Linked DNA regions of Homo sapiens: region 1 is linked to region 2. The links come from fine-mapping of genetic effects on gene expression. A gene starts in region 2. The other region holds a variant in brackets. All regions are shown on one strand. Distances are between the middles of the regions. Region 1 overlaps ANK2 (ankyrin 2). Region 2 holds the start of ANK2 (ankyrin 2).

What was found. PIP is the estimated chance that this variant, and not a neighbour inherited with it, causes the effect.
Region 1: its variant is the best candidate, but not a certain one, in a credible set for the expression of ANK2 in pancreatic islets (PISA, PIP 0.71).

Annotation. Positions count from the first base shown.
Region 1 is chr4:113,133,695-113,138,694 of GRCh38, forward strand. All of the region lies in intron 1 of ANK2 (ankyrin 2), which reads left to right. Among named protein-coding and RNA genes, the nearest start is that of MIR8082, 16 kb to the right of the region's middle. The variant C/CT (reference allele first, on the strand shown) is at 3,067.
Region 2 is chr4:113,047,619-113,052,618 of GRCh38, forward strand. ANK2 (ankyrin 2) reads left to right here and starts at 2,035. Exons shown (of 46, transcript NM_001148.6): 1 at 2,035-2,194. The coding sequence starts at 2,111.

The sequences.
Region 1 (5,000 bases), 86 kb after region 2:
CTATATACTGGACACTGTCCTAAGTACTTAAGATGCACTGACTTATTTAATCTTTTCAGCAACACCATGAGGTAGAAATGATTATAACTCCCTTTTGTCCAATGGAAAAAGTGAGGTTTAAGAAGGAAGGAAGAGGTAAGACCCCAGATGACTTGAATCTGTGCTTCTCCAACTGACCTTATAATGCTATAAAGAAGAGTAGCTGGGATGAAAAATATATATCACCAAGTTACACAAAAATATTTCTAACCTTTCAAGGAACAGACAAACAAAATAGCAGGGGGAGTCTCTGAAGAATTATGATGTGATTTACACTACAGCAAGGTCCCTAATAATAAGATTACAGGAAGAAGGACAGAAGAGCTAGAGTTATCAAGTGCTGAAACCATCTATACTACTAGCACCTCCAATGATCAAAATAGCATCAAGGCCGATTTCTAAGTCTTGGATGTCATCAACAGGAATCTCTTGTTAGAGTAGAAGAGAGGTGAGGTAGGTTCTGGCCCAAAGTATCATATGACTGGCTAGTTTGGAGTTAGTTTATTAAACTGCAATGGAAGTAGCTCTAAAATTTCCTGAAAGTTGTCTTTTTTTTTTTTTTTTTTTTTTTTCTCACTGCAACCACAGAGAGAACCCAAGGACAAAATTCAAAGTAAAATGAAAAAGGAGGGCTACTGAGGTATTACTCACAACAAATACGAAAAGTTGGGGAGTGCATAGAGATCTCTGAATGCCTCTTGTGCTCTGCTGAACAATGAGGCCAAGGATCTGGAAGACATCTTTATACCATAGGAAAATTGATCCCCCCTTATCTTAGTATGGAATAATAATAAACTGAACTATGTTCTCCTTGTTCCAGAGCAAGGACAAAAAAACTACCTTCTACCTTATCAGAGATGTTTTTTTAACACTTGATCTCCAGGTCAGCTAAAATCAAATGTTATTAAAATAGAAAAGGCATATTTCAGTAAAATTGACATTTTAAAATGTCAGTGGTTAATGAAAGCCATAGTCTCTTTTATTGATAATTCTTTTTTTAGGAAGAATTTAGGACAAAATTAAACTGTCATGACATACTTCTTGGTCTACTAAATATTATATGACCTTTGTATTTAGTAAAACTTGACAAAATCAGATTAGAACTTTGCCATGTAGTTTAAGTTATCAAAATATGAAGTCAGATCAATTTTATGACCATAGAAACTTAAAAATTGGAAATTCTAATTTTAGACATTAGAAGTGGCATGACTAAAGTTTTATGGTGTCCATTTCTTCAGGATGCACAATTACTACAGTTAGCATATATCTGAATTACTGATGTTTCACAGTGGCAAAGAATGGAGAGCTCCACCTGGGTATTTGAATGGGTTGTTGGTCATGAACACAAGTAGAAAATGCACATCTTTCTGTGAGTATTTATTGTAGGCTGATAACTGTGGGGTGTTTTTGCATTTACAAGATGCCATATTATTGGTGGCTGTTGTCTCTAAAAGGTTAGCATTTGCTTTGAAGGTAAGACATGTTAGAAGTAAAGATACCTATGAAAAATAAAGAAAAACTGTGGAGAGAGGAGCAGCAAGTGAGTGTCATAGATTAAAGGTAATTAAAGTAAAGTGATGGCCACACAGAGGTGACAGCTGTAAGGAGGATTAGATATCACGGTCAGGCAGGGATCTAGTGATGGATCCATCACTGGAAAAGGGGAACCAATAATGAAAGAATGCAGAGAAGCTCTACAGGTGGAAAGAGTGGAATGAAAGGAGCTTTTCACTACATGTAATACCGTAGAGGCAAATGATGGCCAAACCATAGAGCTGTGTGTGTCTCTCTGTGTGTGTGTGTGTGTGTGTGTGTAGACATTTATGATAAGAGTAATCCTTCTGGACCTCTAGAGAACAATAATTATATTTCCCTGACATTAGCAATGATTACTCTCCATATGTTTATAGTGACACTGATGGATATCCTGAAATATCCATGATGTGATCAACAGTCTTACTCTTACCTCATGAACCATCTTGTGGTTCATGGCTACTGATGCTTTTGTGGCCATTGGCATTTTTGTTCTTTTCATTCCTCCTCATGTTCAGATGGCCACCAACAGATTTGGTGCCTGGACCAAAATCAAACATCTGAAAATATAATTATACAAGAACTGACAGAATAGTAATGTGACCAAAACAAAATCATTTTTAATGGTAATTGGATAAATGACTGCAGATTGCTATTCTCGGAGATTCATTAAAGCATTTCTGTGAGTACATCAGTAATAATATGCATTTGTCTCTTTTTATTTAAATGTTGTGTTTGGGCCTGCGTATAGTGCTGAATGAATATTTGTGAGAAGAATGAAATAAATGTTTGCATAAACCACTCATATTTTAAGTATGTGAAGGAAGTTTTTTTTATTGCTCATTTAGTCAGTAATCAATTATGAGTGCCTGCTATATAGGGGCACTATCAGGAGTACTAGGGACAAACAGACAAATAAAATACAGTGTCTGTTCATAAAAAGACAATTAAAATACAGGGTAACAATCATCCTGATGGCTCTGTGTCCACAGCAGGCTCCTAATCTTGTTGGCCAGGCAGGGCTTCCAAGAGGAGTCTTGCAGATGCTGAGAGGGAGGGAGGTGATCCAGGGGAATAGTTATTAATAAAAGTCCAGAGGAAATTTCAAGGGAGAGAATGCAAAGATGAGATTATGAAAACTGGAATACGCTAGGAATGGTGGTTCGCACCTGTAATCCCAGCACTTGGGAGGAATGCTTGAGTCCAGGAGTTTGAGACCATCCTGGGCAACATGGCGAAACCCTGTCTCTACCAAAAATACAAAAATTAGCCAGGTGTGGTGGTGCATGCTTGTAATCCCAGCTACTTGGGAGGCTGAGGTGGTAGAATCGCTTGAGCCGGGGGAGGTGGAGGTTGCAATGAGCGCCACTGCACTCCAGCTTGGGTGGCAGAGCCAGACCCTGTCTCAAAACAAACAAATAAACAAAAAGCAAAAACTGGGGAAAGAAAGATCAGCTCAGATAGGAGTCCATACCACATTATTAAGGATTTTGG[C/CT]TTTTTTTTTTTTTTTGAGACAGTTTCATTCTGTCACCCAGGCTGGAGTGCAGCAGTACAATCTCGGCTTACTGCAACCTCCGCCTCCCGGGTTCAAGTGGATTCTCCTGCCTCAGCCTCTTGAGTAGCTGGAATTACAGGTGCGTGCCACCAGGCCTAGCTAATTTTTGTATTTTTAGTAGAGACGAGGTTTCACCATGCTGGCCAAGCTGGTCTCAAACTCCTGACCTCAAGTGATCCACCCGCCTTGGCCTCTCAAAGTGCTGAGATTACAGGCTGGCCAGGCTGGTCTCAAACTCCTGACCTCAGGTGATCCACCCACCTTGGCCCCCCAAAGTGCTGGGATTACATGTGTGAGCCACTGCGCCCGACCTAGATTTTCGCTTTTATCTTGAAGATTATAGGGAGTTCCTTGAATAGGTCTGAGCTTTGGAAAGATCTCCTTGGCTAAGGCGCATGACAAATGGATTGAAACAGAGCAAAGCTAGAACCAGTAAACTCTTTAGGAGACAGTTACAGTAATTCAGTCAAGAAATAAATCACTGACCTAAAATAGTGGCAAAGGGATGGAAAAAAGTAGACTCTGCAGGACTGGATGTATGGGAAAGGTAATGTCAAACACTTCAAGATTGTCAGCTTGGGCAGCAAGGTGTATAGGGCTGCTGGTCACTGAGCCAGAGAAGACTGGGCCAGGAGCAGGTTTGAGTAGGGCATTGGCTTAGGAAAGCACTGAGCATGTTTAAATACTAAGGAACTGGTAGAAAAGGAAAACATTTTTTCTTAAAAATATTACTTAATAATTGCTCTTAAAGAAGAAAACCCTTAATTTTTAGAGATATATCTGCATTTTAAATCATATTTATATTCCTTTCTTCTTCCTCTTTCCTTCTTCCTTCTTCCTTCCTTTCTTATCTTCTGGTAGAGAAGATTAATTTTATGTGGACCTAAGTGTGATTTATAAACTTCTGACTGTAAAGATTAAACACATATAAACATCAGCATGAGTGTATTTACTATAGCTTATCATTATACAGATGACAGCACCAAAGTTCAAAATGACAGCTGATAGTGTCCATCTAGAATTTATTTCTAGCAGCATGTAGCTAATAGCAATGGAGCTTAGAGGACATAAGACCACATTAACATAATTTTCGAAGAATGAAATAACAGCATTGACTTTCTAATATATTTATGACTGTATTTCTGGAGTTTTTGATTGCTTATAAAGTGATTTTGTTTTCCAAACAAAAGTAGGGCAAGATTGAAAACTTGAAAATAATTCTCCCATTTTCCAGAGAGAACAAATGATACATATTCAGGGTATTTATTTCAGTATGAATAATATATGAAGGATCATAAATAATTCTTTATACCTTGAAGTGTATAGATACATTTACTCTAAAGAGATCCTGAAATAAAACCCAAGTGAATGAAGTTGGACAATGAAATTCAAGTTCTTTTTGGAGCTCTAAGTTTTCCGTCTTTGAAATAAAATGAATTTAGTCTATGTATCATTCCATAATTGTAGTGCAACTGTTCTTGACTAAATGCACACTCATCATGCTGTTTAAAGTAATCATAATACCATATTTTACAGTAACTCTCTGATGTCGGTGCAACACAACTGGAAGAGCCTAGTTGATTCTGTGTTTCAACACAGTACAAGAAAATCAGTTATCCTCATAATAAATCAGGTTTAATTGGTAATTCTAAAATAAATACTCATATATGCTCTAGTTGAACCAGCATCAGATATTTAGTTTGAACTTAGGTTTGTTATTGACTGATGAATGCCTGGCTGCTGCCTGGAAGTGTATTTTCAATGTCTATGTCTCTTGCTTAATTTCAAATGTCATATGTGTGTATTTTGTAGGGAAAGTAGGATTTTAAAATATTTTGAAATCAATAGATTAAAATATTTGAGTATAGGATTA
Region 2 (5,000 bases):
TGACCACAGTGGGAGTTGGGCTTCTGGAGGCTTCTGTAGAAGCTCTTTGGGGTTTTGTTTTAAAAAAAAAGAGAGAACCTTTGCCTCTTTGGCCTGGCTGTGTGATCCAAGATACCACTGAAGCAATGGTGAGAGAATGGCATTGGTGGAATGGGTCTGCTGAAACAGGAGGAGGGTGGAGGGAGTGAGGGGCAGCAAAACAGAGTTGACTCCAGATGATGACGTGGAGGGGCCTTAGGGTGGTAAGGCAGAGAGAAGGAGCAATCCTAACAGCAATGGGGAAATAGGTGAATTTTTGTTGCTCTGTCTGATGGAAAGGTGAGTTCTCAACTGCTGCAGTCATTTTCACATAAATATGTTTCTTAAGGTACACTTTCAGAGTTGAAAACTGTCTATATTTGTAATAATAATAAGATTAGCAATAGCAACACATTTACATAGGCACCTTCCAATTTCAAAGTGCATTTATATACACTATCTCGTTGGTTTAATCCTTACTCTATTTTTACTTCTAAGTATGCTGTGTATTATACTTTACGTTCATTGTCTGGGAATAAGGGCAAGTGTTTAGAATATACATATGTGCATTTGTACAAAGTATATTAGGTTCTGGTTGCATCTACAAGTGTGTATATATATATATATATATATATATATATTTTTTTTTTTTTTTTTTTTTTTTTTTTTTTTCAAGGCGGAGTCTTGCTCTGTCACCGAGGCTGGAGTGCACTGGGGGCAATCTTGGCTCACTGCAACCTTCGCCTCCCGAGTTCAAGCAATTCTCCTGCCCCAGCCTCCCCACACCTGGCTAATTTTTTTTTTTTTTTTGTATTTTTAGTAGAGGCAGGGTTTCATCACGTTGGCCAGGCTGTTGTCGAGCTCCTCACCTTGCGATCCACCTGCCTTGGCCTCCCAAAATGCTGGGATTATAGGCATGAGCCACTGCGCCCAGCCTACAAGTTAATATTTTTAAATATACAAGTATGGCCACCTTAATCAATAAGTGAATTTGGGTTTCTTGTTATAAAAACAAGCCCCATTTTTTTAAAATCAAGAAGAATTCCAGAACTTTATAGTATACACCCCTTGAGAGGAGGGATTGTGTTTTATTCATCAGTCAATAGACACAATTAGGTTAAGAAAACTTTTGAGATAAGTTATAAAATATTGCAACTCCATTAGTTTTTTATGTTTTTATTACTGATAGTGTCTTAGATATTTAACAAGCCTTGATTAACTGCCTTTAATGTGCCATGGATTATGCTTGGTTCTGGGAAATTCAGTTCTCCCCCTACCCAGACACACACACACACACACACACACACACACACACACACACACACACACTCCTGATCTAAAGCTCTTGGCCTATCAAGAAAAGATGGTTAGGTATCTGGGCAGTTGTGTAATACATTGTCACAGGTATACTGTCAGAAGCTTACATTGGAAAGAGAAGGCACAGGAGAAGAGAGTGGTTGGGGTTATCTGGAGGTTGGAGAAGCTGTTCTCAAGGCTTTATGACAGAAGTCATCCTTGAGTGTAGTTTCAAAAGATTATATTTTAAACCAAGTGAATGACATCTGAAAAACATAGCTTTCTTATATTCACTTTAGGATATTAATAACCAATCCTTTTCCTTAAGTAGCCTCTTGACTGGCTAAATGTACCTCTTCAGGTTCAGAGACACATTCTAGAATGTTACAGTTTTCTCATTATGCATTGTATCTGTTCCGTGTTGAAGTACCTGTAGGAAGAAAATTAAGTACAGGTTTTGTGTGTAGGTTGAGAGCTGATCCTATCAAGGGTGTGTCAGAAACCAACCAGCAGAGTCCCCAAATCATTCGAGTCCCTGGCATTCTTTTTTCAAGGCTTTCTTCATTGTAACCGGTTCCTGATGGTAATTGGTTGAATCAGATTTAACAATGCAGTCAGATAAACAGTTGTGGCAGCTGCTGCCATGGCAACGTCACCGTCCTTACCCTCCCAGTGCGCGCCCCTTCCCCACCCCTCCTCCTCCTCCTGCTTTCCTCCAGTAAGTGCATACCCGCTAGTGGTCTGTACAGGCGGCACGGTTTGATGGCAGAGATATTTTCTTTCCAAACTGTTCAAAATGATGAACGAAGATGCAGCTCAGAAAAGCGACAGTGGAGAGAAGTTCAACGGCAGTAGTCAGAGGAGAAAAAGACCCAAGAAGGTAAATCGCCGGAATTAGGAATGTCTGTGTATAAATATGTATGTGTGTGCATGTGTGAGTGTGTAATATCAGCAAGGCTATGGAAACCGTGGAGCATTATGAGTAACTGTAGACGATAACAGTGCCAAGCCTTGCTTTTTAAAGAGGCAGGTGCAAACTGCTGCTTTTTGAGAATAGTAAAGGAGCCATGGCTCATAATGGATACACTGACTGGAGCATGGTGAAGTGAATAGAGATAAGGTGTGTTCCACATGTGGATTACTGAGGACCGTGGCCACTGATGGATTCTTCTGGTGTTAACTGGGTAGAGAGAGTCGTTTTATTTTTAGTGTGTAAAAGGAAGAGTGTTAAGCAACGTGGATTGTGAAGCAAAAGGCAGATTTTTGGCCAGATGCGTTTGCTCTATGATGATCCTGAGATGGCTAGACAGCAAAAGCCTTTTGGTTTCATGCTAAGTGTATTCCTCCTAAGGAGAAAAGACTGCTGTGACAGGAGAAATATCATCCCCAGCATGATATTTCTTTGGCTTGCTTAGCTCCTCTGCAGTTTTCCCAGACATTAGTGTGATAGCTCTTTCAATAATAAGAAAAACAGCTAAAGATGTTATGGGGTGGGGGCTCTTGGGCACACAAAGCAGTCTGTAGGATTTCTTACTGTGGCATACATTCCCACACCCTCGATTTTCATGGAAATGATAGCAGCGAGAAACAGTGGGAAAAGATGCAAACTATTCAGCCCCACCCAATGCCAGCACTTCTTTCTTTATGGCCTGACTCCTTCTGGTAAACTGTTGCAGCCTCACAGAGCTTCCCTGAGCCTCACCTCTGAAAGAGATGCTCTATAAATAAATTCTCCTAAAATGCATTTATTTCCTGGAGCAATAATATGGGCAGGATATTAGATATGATTGTAATGTAAATGGCTTTCAACATTAGATGGTTTTGGATTTTGAATAAGCAGATTGCAAAAAATAATAAGCATGAACAAATGAATATTTTTCATTTTGCTAATGAAGTTGCATTGTGTTTCAAAATTCTAGATGTCTAGTGTACTAAATGTTTTATAATCTAAAGATTGTAAATAATTTGCAACCTCTGATATTTAAAAGATCACTGTATCAGCAAACAAGGGAGTAGTATATTTGTATGGTATCATGCAATTTGATAGAAATAAGCATGTGATGATTTTTAATCATAGCGTAGAGATAGTGATACAATCTGATAACAGGCAAAAGGATAATTCAGGGCAAGCAGGAACATTGGTAGAATGTCCTTTTCCTTTTGTACCTAAGCATTCCAGATCTAGACCTTGAGGGCATTTTTATAGAGTGTTAGCTAATTGAACAACATAAAAAAAGAAAAAGAAAATAGAAGAGAGAGCGCGAGCAAGCAAGAGAGAGGGAAAAAGAAAGAAAAAAAGGAATTTTTGTTTTAATTCACATTATCATTTCAAAATCCCGTATTTTCTCTCTAAAGTCCCTGTGGTGCTTTAGAAACAATATACTCAGGACTATTAAAGGGGTGGAGAATGAATCTTGAGATTTTTGAGCTCTGAATGATGATACTAACTTCACATGACCAAAGCCATTTTAAAGTCTTTGAGGAGGTAGAGACAACGAAATCATCCTATGTAATAACTATCATATCTTTAAGCTGAATTTTCTCAAATAAATTTATTTTAGGAGTAAGTCTTTTTCCAAACTTGCATCCAAAATGAAAGAGCAAGTTTTGAATGTGTGTGTCAGAGCACCATGAATATTGAGTGTTAAAAGGAGTTTCACCTAAAAGAAATTGCTTTTGAAAAAAATGCTAATTACATAATAGATTAGGGGACGCACACACATAAACACACACATACACATCCCTCAGCTTGCCTAGTCAGTCAGACATAAGTGGGTCTGAATCTCAGTTCTACCCTTTAATTTTGTGTGTTTGGAGCACATCATTTAATTTCTCATTTAATGAATCCAGGGATTCATCTGTAAAATGAGAATAATTATATATAGAATATTTTATGAGGATTAGAAATAATGTATATATGATTATTTGAACAGTATTTAAAACATATAGTCAATGGCAATAACTTTCAGGTGTTATTCTCTTAAATGGAATTTGTTTATTGCAATAAGCCTTTTAAGAGAAAAATCTGTTTATACTTTTGAGAGAGGCAGAAATGACAGAATCCAATATTGGTGCTTTGCAAAGGCTAGTAGTCATTTTTCAAAATGTCAAAAGTTATATGCTATAATTGGAAACTTTTTTATCTCAAAAAATCATTGAGATTTACATAAATGTACCTTAGGTCTTTATATTATTGTTTCACATTATTTTGCACAGCAAGAAACTTACATTTTCATATTTAAACACTAGACCATTAAATGTGCCTTGATGAGGACATTAATGATAAAGAGATAAGTATCCCTAATAAGCATAAAAGCTGAGAAAGCAAAAATTGGAGTAAAGTCAATGTCACATCACTTCAATTCGGTTGTTTGTTTTTCTACTAGAGGTTTACATTGAATCTGCTGTGGGATTCTACTTAAGCATCCAGGACTACGGACCACCAAGCTCACTATGGCCTGGGTGTGGATCTATCCTACTGAATCATATTCCTTGAAATCATGCGTCTATCTCTAGTAAATACGTAACAGATGGGCTGTAATTTACTTGTTTATTCTGTACCTTCCAAAAGTACCTCTTCTGAGGGACAGAGCTAAAGGGTCTTTTGCCACCAGACCTACAATGTGAGAAAACAAGCTCAAGGAGGAATTTATTTATGTCAAAATTTTACTGAGTGTGTTGAGAAT